2 separate regions of the Homo sapiens genome follow, and region 2 is linked to region 1. The links come from fine-mapping of genetic effects on gene expression. A gene starts in region 1. The other region holds a variant in brackets. All regions are shown on one strand. Distances are between the middles of the regions.

Evidence for each region. PIP is the estimated chance that this variant, and not a neighbour inherited with it, causes the effect.
Region 2: its variant is fine-mapped to the expression of STC1 in fibroblasts (GENCORD, PIP 0.95).

The regions. Positions count from the first base shown.
Region 1 is chr8:23,852,408-23,857,785 of GRCh38, forward strand. It overlaps STC1 (stanniocalcin 1), which reads right to left and starts at 2,399. Exons shown (of 4, transcript NM_003155.3): 1 at 1,999-2,399. The coding sequence starts at 2,116.
Region 2 is chr8:23,742,189-23,747,566 of GRCh38, forward strand. The region is part of intron 3 of LOC107986930 (a long non-coding RNA gene); the gene reads left to right. Among named protein-coding and RNA genes, the nearest start is that of NKX2-6, 38 kb to the left of the region's middle. The variant A/G (reference allele first, on the strand shown) is at 2,447.

The sequences.
Region 1 (5,378 bases):
TCTGGGTCAAACAGTGAGGAATGGCTGGGTGGGATCAAGTGGGTGCAGAGGTGAATTTCAAGGACATGAGGTCAGAAGAACTTATCCTAGGAATCTGTCATGAGGGGCAATTGATAGACCCATTTGATTGAGAAAGAGAGGATAGACAGGCTCCTTTTGTTTATGATTGCTGGAGTACATGATGGACAGGGAGGGAGTTCTCTGTTTCAGACACACGCTCCCTGTTTCACCATTACCTACAATTTTGGTGTCTGGAGAAGTGAGGCTCAAGTCTGGAAATGCACAGTGCCTTTAAGCCATTCCATAGAATCAAAGGTCATTGCTTAGCACTTGAAAGCATGGGAAGGAAGGAGACAGTGGCTAGTGGTCAGGTTTAAGAGGTAAAAGGGCCAGGGAATCCATCTAGCTTTGGAAAAATGCACTCCCGAGTAAAAAGCATGGGATTTTAGTCTAAATGGCAGAGAAGACTGTGCCAGGAGTCCACTTGGAGACCCTTCTGATTTCAGGCTTTTAACTTACCGTCATATTGGCAAAAAGAAATCTGATCCGTTCATGTTTCACCCCAACCCTCCACTAGGACAGTGCTTAGAGGTATGCATAATCTCTTTCATATTAAAAGCCTTTTAAAAAAGAAAGAAAGAAAGAAAGAAAGAAAGAAGAAACACAGGTGTGGAATAACCAGGCCAAGGCCTCCCTATGCAAGACTGGAAGAAAACCGCAAAAAACTTGCATGAGGCTTTCTACATTCTGGATAAGATCTCCCATAAAAGTAATTTTTCTCCCACAGAAGGGGGGTGTTCTGGCAGGCAGCTAGGCAAGGAATGATCTGCAGCCTTCATGCCATAGGATTCTCCTCTGAGATCAAAAGCATGGTTCAGTTAGTCTTCCCCACCCCCTCCCACCACCCGCAGCCTCTAGGATGTTACAAGTCATTTCCCTAATTATATATTTCCACGGGTTTAAATTATAACTTTGCTTTAAGCAGTTTTAATATGCATTAGGGCTGCTATTGTTTTAGGCAAGCTCGAATTGTGAATCACTGCATCTCTATAGCAACTAAGTACAAAAGGAAGTGAAGCAAAAGCCCTCCTCTCGGCAGGGACCTGTGCTCTTCCAAGGGGATCATCATCTGCAGCATTTTGACACCTGTGATCCGGTCTTTGCTGACAGTTGGAGGACAGAGGGCAGTATTGGAAGGGGAACAAGTGGAGCCAGAGAAGTCAAGAGGCAGAGGTGTCAATGCAGGCTTCCTAATGATTCTTTTCCTTCAGAAGCCAAGATAATGCACAATTAACTGCTCCAAGAGTCAAGACGAAAGTGAGACCTTACCCTTGGAGAAACAGCTGCTACGTTTCACAATTTTTTTTTTCTAGGGGCTCTCTGGCTACGGGCTGCAGGGACGACTGAATGGAGCCCTACAGAGCCAGGAGGGAGACAGGCAGCAGGGTTGGGGGTGGGATGTATAGGGTTTTCTCTGAATCCGCCCTGGATTTGTCAGACTTGAGGGCTATGGTTCTGAAAATCAGTCTGAAGAGGGAGCTTTTCTGTGTATTCTCTTAGGTAGAGAAGTCAAGAAGTGAAGAGGTAGAGTCTTAAGAGGAAAGGAAGAGGGACAGCATCAAACAAGCCAGGTCTTACCTTAGATCAGCTTCTGGAAAGTATAGAGAGCGCTTTGAAGCATGCCAACATTCAAGCCTTTCCTCCCCTCTCACCCCTCCCCCTCCAAGAGGGTACGTGCCAGATTTCAGGCAATCAGGCTAGGCTTATGCAATGAAATACCCTCAGCAGAGCGTCCAGCTTCTTCGTTTAGTTGCATGCAATTTATTAAACAAAGGAGCTCCACTGCCTAAGGCTATTGGATTACACTGGCAGTTTATTGCCATCAGGCATGAAGCACATTTATTATCAAGATCAGCCGTCACAGACACAGTTGCAAAAGGGAGAGGCAAATGAGGACAGCTCTTTGGGGGAGAAACCGCTCTTGGGTTTGCTGCTTACCTGAGTTTTGAGCCGCCACTCGGGATTTCCTGGGGCTCACAGAGTCATTCTGCTCCGCCTCATGGGTTGCAGAAGCACTGATCACCAGCACCAGAAGCACTGCTGAGTTTTGGAGCATTCTCTGAGAAGTTTCCGCTAAGTTGTTGGGTTTTTTTTTTTTCCTGCCCCCCTTTCCTCTTTCCCTCTCCTGGCTTGAGTGAAGATGTGGATCTGGATACACTGAAAGCTTAGGTGAGGATTTGATGAGGATTTTTTTTTGTTGTTGTTGCTGGTGATGCTGCTGCTGCCACCGGTGCCTCCGCTGCTGCTGCTGCTGCCGCCGCTGCTGCTGCTGCTGCCACCGCCGCTGCTGCTGCTGCTGCTGCAGTCGCTGCTTCTTGCACCTCTGGCTTTTGCAAACTGGGGGCCCAAGAGCTGCACCCAGGGATTTTATAGCCGTTCTTATCGGTCCTCAGGATCAAGGACCAATCAGGTCCCTCAACTGGTCTGGTGAGCCAATAAGAGGGCATGCAATTCAGCTGGAGCTTTTTGACTTCTTAGAAATATTTTCCAGCAAATTAAAAGTACCTGCTGCCAATGTTTTATATGTGTGTGTGACTGTGTGTGCAGAGATGTGTGAAAAAGCTATTTTCGTGGAAGTAAGAGATAACTCTGTATTGATTGAACTAAAGAAAAATCCTATAGAAATCTCTCCAAGTTGCTTTTTGAAATCTAGCCATCTTTTTTTCTAATGAGCCACTTGGGGGAAATGGATAGCAGGGGTATGGTGGGGAAATGTGATCTCTTTAGATGAGAACTTAACCTGCTTACAGCAGTTTTACTCTAATTTTAACAGCACATTCTCGGTTCTGTTTTGTAGGCTACAAATGCAATAACTCCCTATCTTCTCTGTGTGTACATGTTCACATGTCTATGATGCATTTTTGTTTGTATGTGGACATCCTGGGTTCTCACTCACACATTTGAGCCCTTGAGGGGGAATTTATGTGAGTGGAAAAGCCTTGGGGGACTGAGATATGACAGCTCAGAGCTGAAGCCTTAGTCCCCCTACTGATCAACCTATGACTCTGGCTAAGTCTTTTTACCTTGCCCCACCTCGTTTTCCCATCTGTAAAACGCCAAAGTTGGACTCTGACATTCTGTATACCTCTAAAATAATGTGATTCTTCAATAATCAAATCAACTTTGACTTCATCTTTTCAGTCACCAGCAAAATTGCATAGTCCAGGAGTGTTAGTTACCCCAGGTACACATGTGCACACCTGCACATACCACACTCAACAGGGAGACATCATGAATGCCTGAAAATTAATAATCTGTGTTCAAGCCCAGCAACTTTATAACCACTTTGAAACAATAAGCTGGCCAAAGCAAGACTAAACCTGCTGAATGGAAACCAGTTCATTTCTTGGGGAGAGGGGTAGGAAAAAAGGGGGCAGAATGGAAAGAAGGGGTAGAGAAAGACCAGAATGTGTAGGAGAGAAGAATGATAAGCTCTAGACTTAATAGGAAAATTGCACTGCAATCACAAATCATGCCTGGTATAGAAACTTATATTTTCTTATAAGTGAGTTGTAGGCAATGCTGAGGTTTGTCCCCAACATGTGAAGGAGGTTAATGAGCCAGAAGAGGACTTCTTAGGGTAGGAAGGTGGTGAAGGTATTATACAATAAAACCTTTAATAATTTTGGGGAAGTAGATGAGAAATGGCCACTGGTGATTCATACAGATTTGGGCAGGATAATCTTGCAGAGAAATGGGGCCAGTGGCTTTACTTTGCATCCTAAAACCTTCAAACAAAAGTTGAAGAAAGAGTGCCACCCCTGTTAACCACAAACTAAACCAAGTGTCAGCTCTGTGTATGTTGTGGGGTGATAGGGTGGTGGGGGGCGGGGGGGGGGGGGCGGCGGACGGTTCTGGGTGATGATAGCCTATCCCTCACAAAATAGGGTTGTTTGGTAAGTATGAAAGTTTGCTAGAAAAAGGAATAGAAGGAATAAAGGATACAGGAAATATCTAAAAGAAAGGAAGGGAATTTTCAGATTTACATTATATAACAAGAATACATTTTAATTTATATTAACAGGCAGTATTGGTATTTCTTTAGAACCTTCTGGGCTGAGTGCTAGGGGACAATGTGGGAGGATAAATGAGAAGACATAGAGAAGAAGGTAAGTTCATTATTCTTGTCCTGAAGGTACTTACAGGTGAGTTGGGAAGATGACCAGCCACAGTCATACTTCCTAAAGGTTCGGGATGTCAGGACCTCATATAGTAAGACACAGGCTCAGGCAGCACTGGCTGGAGATGGGGGGAAAGCTCTTGAGGGAAAGATCAGTGGGGAAAGATGTAAACTGCTGTTGTTGCTTTTTAAGAATTTAGGAAAAGCTATGCTATTTCATTTTTAAAAAACAAAGCTTGTATTGTGGAAAGCTTCAAGGTTATTTGTATTGCTTTAGTTAGAAGTAGTAGATGCCAGGCAAGGCAATAGAATTTCTCAGTGCTCTCTTCCAGAAAGGGAGTAAGAGGACAGATGCGTATTCCTCCCAAGGGTCTTGACTTCTGTTCTTTAGCATTCTCTACCTCCTTGGCCATTATTCATCATCTAAGGCAGTGCCATTTGTTTCTCTTGGGCTTTCCCTGAGTTGGTCTGCTTGGCTTGGTAGGGTGATGATTTACCACCAGCCATCTACTTTGTTTTTCCAACTCTCCGTTGCTCTCACCAGAACACGATGTCCTACAAGCATCAAGATGTGTTTGTGTTTTTTTTTTCTGATGTTGATTTATTATTCCTTCTTATTTTGCTCACTTACTATCTTGTGCCTGGAAGTTCATTGCTAGGTGTGCCAAGTGTTTCCCAATAACAGGTAAACTGTCCTTTGAAGAAATACAATAGTGGTCAGCCCATTGATTTGAATGTAACTAGTATGCATGCCAATGCATTTGAGAACCTTAGGGGAAGGAGCTGAAGTCTACATGAAATGCCCAGTGTAAAATTTCTGCCTAGAATGTCATGGTATGTGGATATCCAAGTGCCCTCAATCATTGTGCAACTGTCTGGAACTGTGATATAGCAAGATAAAAGGGTCTTGGGGGCCCTGGTGGTGATGTCTGGTTTCTTTGTAACTTCTCTTGGGGGTCTGAGAGAATATGGAGGAGTTTGCTTAGCGCTCTTCACAGTCTGAGTTTTATCCTGTAAGGAACAGGAAGTTATTCGGGCTCTTGAGTAGGAATTGTTAAATGATGGGTGGAAATAAGTGTTTAGGCAAGATTATTTCATCATACTTATGATGGTTTGGAGGAAGAAAAGAACAGAAGTTTTAAGACTTGTTAATAACAGAATTTTGTTGATGAGATTCTGGCCTACAATGGTTGTGGCA
Region 2 (5,378 bases), 110 kb before region 1:
TGTGGAGGTAAAAGACAAGACACAGAAAGCATTCCCTACAATATCAAGAGTAAGACGAGATGTTCACTACCAGCAGGTGTTTTCAGCATTGTGGCTGGAGGTCCTAACCAGTGTAGGAATGCACGGACAAGACACACAAAATACAAGGACTGGAAAGAAGAAACACAATAGTCATCATTCACAGATTATATGGCTGTGTACATGAAAAATTCAAATGATCCTACAGATAAATAATTAGAACTGATAAGAGCTTACCAAGAGTGCTGGCCATAAAGCCAAGGTAAAAAAAAGCCAATTACATTTATATTATTAATAACAAACAGAAATTAAGTAAATATATACCATCTATAATAAGTCCAAGAAATGAAGTACATAAGAATAAATCTTTAAAAGTATGTATAAGACCTCTAGTGGTGAAAATGATAAATCGTTATTGAGAGTTGTTAAAGGCTGGGTATGGTGGCTCATACCTGTAATCCCAGCACTTTGGGAGGCTGAGGCAGGAGGATGGCTTGAGGCCAGGAGTTTGAGACCTGCCTCAGCAATATAGTGAGACCTCTGCCTCTACAAAACATTTAAAAAATAGCTGGGCATGGCGGTGCACACCTTTGGTCTGAGCTACTTGCAAGGCTGAGGTGGATGATCACCTGTGCCCGGGACGCAGAGGCTGTAGTGAGTCGTGATTGTGCCACTGCACTCTTGCCTGGGTGACAAAGTGAGACCCCGTCTCAAAAAAAAAAAAAAGTTGCTAAAGAAGCCCAGAGCCTTCCATGCATGTGGTATAACCTCTGCCTCTGTACCTACAAGGGCTGGGTTTTCTCTGAACTTCCTCAAGCTGCAGGTTCCTCTCTCCTTCCATAGGTGGAGGCAGCCTGGGCCTGGCTGGAGCAGGCGATTCTGTGCTGGTGGCTAGATAGAGTCACACCCCAAACCTGTTCCTTTTCTGTTCATGGTGTTGAGCAGTCAGTGACGACCTTGCTAATAAGAAGGAGAATGCCCTGGTTCAGATGGTTGATAGGTGCCAGGCCCAACTGGCTGAGAGTTATCTGCAATGGCCCTAAGTTTCCTAGGAAGCTTTGATAAGCATCAGAGCTGCAGCTTTCTCAAGAAGGCCAACAGAACTAGGGTCTAAGACTGAAGACTATGGAAACTCTCCCCTCTATTGTTTCAAAAATCCAGAATCCTAAAATTTCCAGAATGTTTCATTGTTCATAACCCTGGACCTTTTCAAAATCCTGTAGTTTATATTTTAAAAAGACCTTAAGTTTTTAACTTTTTAAAAGTAGTGGGATGTAAAAGAGACTATCAAATAGGGTGACAGTTGAATTTCCATTTGAAAAGGAAGAAATTGAGTCTCAGTGACAGGAAGTAGATAGAAAGGCAAAGATTTGAATAAAATCATATCCTGATGTCTGTTTCTTTTAAAAAAGTGGAAGAATGAGCTCAGTATTCAAATTCTTCTGGAATGATCTTAAGCTGGCCTGCAGGTAACATTCCCCAAGTCCACATTTACAGGTCGGGATGACCCATTGAGAGGAAACTGGATGAACAAAATCCTGGTGTTCAGCCTTACCTGGAAACGGGCAGAATACCTGCTGACAACTTCTGTCATCCCAGACAAATAGCTACTTTACAAAGCTCCAGATTGAAAGTGAAAGACCAGAGATGTTATGATTTTTTTAAAGAGAATAATCAGTTGACCGGTTCAAACAATTAATGAAAATCACATGGTGTTCCTTACGGTGATGGGACAGTAGTCATGGGGTCTTGATGACTATGTGAGGTGGGCGAAATACTGGCTGCTATTATTTATGCGCTGAGGACTGGCTCTGGGACAGATTTTCTCCTTTCCTGCTCTCCTCTCCTCTCTTCCCCCAACTCCCACCTCAACAGTCCTACAAATCTATGAGGTTTCACATTGGTGCCTTTCCCTACTCACTCTTCAGTACTCAAAACACCCTGAACTGCAGTGTGGTCTACCCTGAGGCCTTTGTTTTCAGGTCTTGGAAAGTGTGTGTGTGCAGGATCCCCGGCTCCTCCAAGCATGAGATTTCTAAGCATGTCCCTAGACCACCACTGTGCCATCTCGTACCTTAAAAACTTCTTATGATATTAATGAGGAAAGCCACGCTGCTTTCAGCGATGTGTAGATGCTTTGGAGAACTCAGTGGAATGGGTTATTTTACTTTCAGATGAATTCATTTTGAATAAAAAAATATCCAGGTATTGTGTTTGTTCTGCTCATGAAATACCTTCTGTCTGCAGATTATCAAGTATCTTGACACTTTGTCATCCAGACAGACACTTTTTTTTTGGAGGGGAAGGAGTTTATATGGCTGCTTGACAAAAAATGGTAAGCCTAGCCAGTGGAGACACTGATGACCCTGTTAGGTCTTTTGCTGGTTAGGAGACATCCTGCTTTCCAAGATTCAGTTAATTAAACAAC[A/G]CTGGTTCTCCCCTCATCCTCCTTTGAGCGTAATTTAGACAGGTCAGTCGGCATAACAGTCTCCTAACCATGAATAGCATGACAAGTGCCTGGCCCACCTGGCTGAGAATCACTGTTCTTTACTCTTCTGGGAGGGAAGTGGTGCCTCTCATTTAGTAAACTGTTTGGTCACCTTTGTCCCACCCCCTACTCTCTACCTGGCCTAGGGAGGCCAATTTATTACTCCCTTCTTATTGCATCTTCAACTTTTGAACTTTGGTTTCTCATATTATTCTTTTGTTGCAGTGGCAGGCATCTATTTCTAGTTGAATAGATAGTCTTCTCTTTCAAAAATTAATATGCAAGAGAAATGTTTAAAATTAACTTTTTAAAGCAAATGATGATAACAATTAAGGTGTCATTTACATTTTCTCCATTTCTTGTGTACTGTATTTTACAATTTTCTTCTTTTGTTGCTCAGTGACATAGAAGAACTGGAATTTAGATTTCAGTTAGTAAGCTGAAGTCATATCATAGCTGTGGGATTGAACGATGTGGGGTTGAGTCAAACACAAGGAAGTACTGGCAGCTCCAGTAGCCGAAAAGTGGAGAAAACGGTTGTGGTTTTCTCCAGGAAAACCTCCAGTCTAGACCTTTAGAAAGAGATCAAGCCAGCTTCTACTGCCTGGGAGGCTTCCTGCCACATACCACTCAAACTTTGATATTGCAAAATCCAATGCCATCTTTCATTTCTATGCAACTTTTAATCTGCTTAGATGTGGAAAAATATCTCTTAAAAACTCCTTCAAGATTTTTTTTTTCCAAATTGTATATTCAACTTTTGCTTTTGTTGCCTCTAGTGTTGGGGATTCAGAGGGAGGGCACTGAGGAGTTTGAATTCTCAATGTTGTGAATCCCTTGTCTGCCTTCTTGGGTGCAAATTGAACCAAGGTCCTGGACCTGCCTTTTTTGGTTACTTACCTGCTTGCCCTTAAGCTTGTGGTATCATTTCCAGAGAAATGGAAATTTCTTCCCAGAAAGAAAATCTCCCAAAGACTTTTAAACAAGGGGCCTTCTATCCCCACTGATAACACATCAGGTTTTTTTTTTAGTCTCAAATTGGAAACTCACAAGAGCCTAGCACCTGGTTACTGCCTGACCTGGCAACTGCCTGATCTAGCAAAAACTCAGCTTTCAAGGGTTGAACTCTGGAGGCGGAGGTTGCAGTGAGCCGAGATTGTGCCACTGCACTCCAGCCTGGGTGATACAGCAAGACTCCGTGTCAAAAAACAACAACAAAAAAACAGATTCCTGGTCCCCATCGCAAACCCATTCCATTCAATTACATGTGGGTGGCGCTTGGGGCAGTTCTGACGCAACCCCCAGGTTTGAAGGTCTCTGGCCTGGGTAACCGGGTCTCCTTCAAGGGAGTCCCTTGAAGGGTCCCTTTCAAGGGAGGCATGGCAAGCAGGTACAATTTAACCAAATGACCCTTTTTATCCCAATGAGAATATAGGAGCTTGGAAGAAACCGAAAGGGCTGGACCCTGAAAGTAGCATGAAATCCATGTCTGCCTTGCAATCTCTCTTTCTCTCTTTCTTTCTCTCTCTCTCTCTTCCTCCCTCCCTCCGTCGTTCTCTCTCTCTCTTTTCTTTCTTTCTCTCTCTTTCTTTCCCTTCCTTCCTTCCCTCCCTCCTTCCCTGCCTCCCTCCTTTCTTTCTCTTTCTTTCTTTTCTTTTCTTTTCCTTCCTTCCTTCCCTCCCTCCCTCCCTTCTTTCTTTCCTTTCTTTCTTTCTTTCTTCTTTCTTTCTTTCTTTCTTTCTTTCTTTCTTTCTTTCTTTCTCTCTCTCTCTCTCTCTCTCTCTCTCTCTCTCTTTCTTTCTTTTTCTTTCTTTCTTTTTCTTTCTTGGTTTTTTTCTTTCTTTCTTTCTCTCTCTTTCTTTCTTTCTTCCTTTCTTTCTTTCTTTTTTACTCTTGTTGCCCAGGTTGGAGTGCAATGGTGCAGTCTTGGCTCACCACAACCTCTGCCTCCCGGGTTCAAGCGATTCTCCTGCCTCAGCCTCCCGAGTAGCTGAGATTACAGGCATGCGCCACCACACCCGGCTAATTTTGTATTTTTAGTAGAGATGGCATTTCACCATGTTGGTCAGGCTGGTCTCAAACTCCCAACTACAGGTGATCCTCCCACCTCCGCCTCCCAAAATGCTGGGATTACAGGCGTGAGCCACCACACCCGGCCCCTGCCTTGCAATTTTTAACAGAAGTAATCCCAGCACCACTGTGCAACTTGGAGTCTATTTGCTTCTCTGATTTTGTCCATAAGGAGTGTAACAGAGATTTAAATATGAATTACTTTTTATATCTTTTGTAAAACATGAGGCAACACAGAGGCTTTTTTTTTTAATGCTAAAATAAATCAGTAGTACATCCTAAGCAATATTCTTTTGTATCCATGGAGTGGTTTAGTGACCACAAAAATATTCCTGTCTCAAAATACTTGTAATTGGGGAAATAAGCCAATTTTATAACAACTACCACCAGAAAAAAAAAAAAGCTAAATTAAAAAAATTGCCTTCTGAGTATTTGGTATGATTTATACTCAGAACATGTCAAAATATATTTTTAAACTATTCAATAATTGATAAAACAAAAAACCCCTACAAATTGAGTATGTCCTTTGAATTAACAATTCCGTTTTAAAAAATTTATTTTTATTTTTTTGGAGACAGACTCTTGCCTAGGCTGGAGCAGTGACGTGGTCATAGTTCACTGTACCCTCAAACTCCTGGGCTCCTTGACTTAACAATTGTTTCTATTTTACAAAAGCAATGCCATAATTACATAAAGATGTATGCCCCAGGACAGTAATTGGACTGGCATTTGTAACTGAAAAACAACAAAAAAAATCTATTCATTAATGTATATTTCAGTGATAATACAGTGAAATAGCACA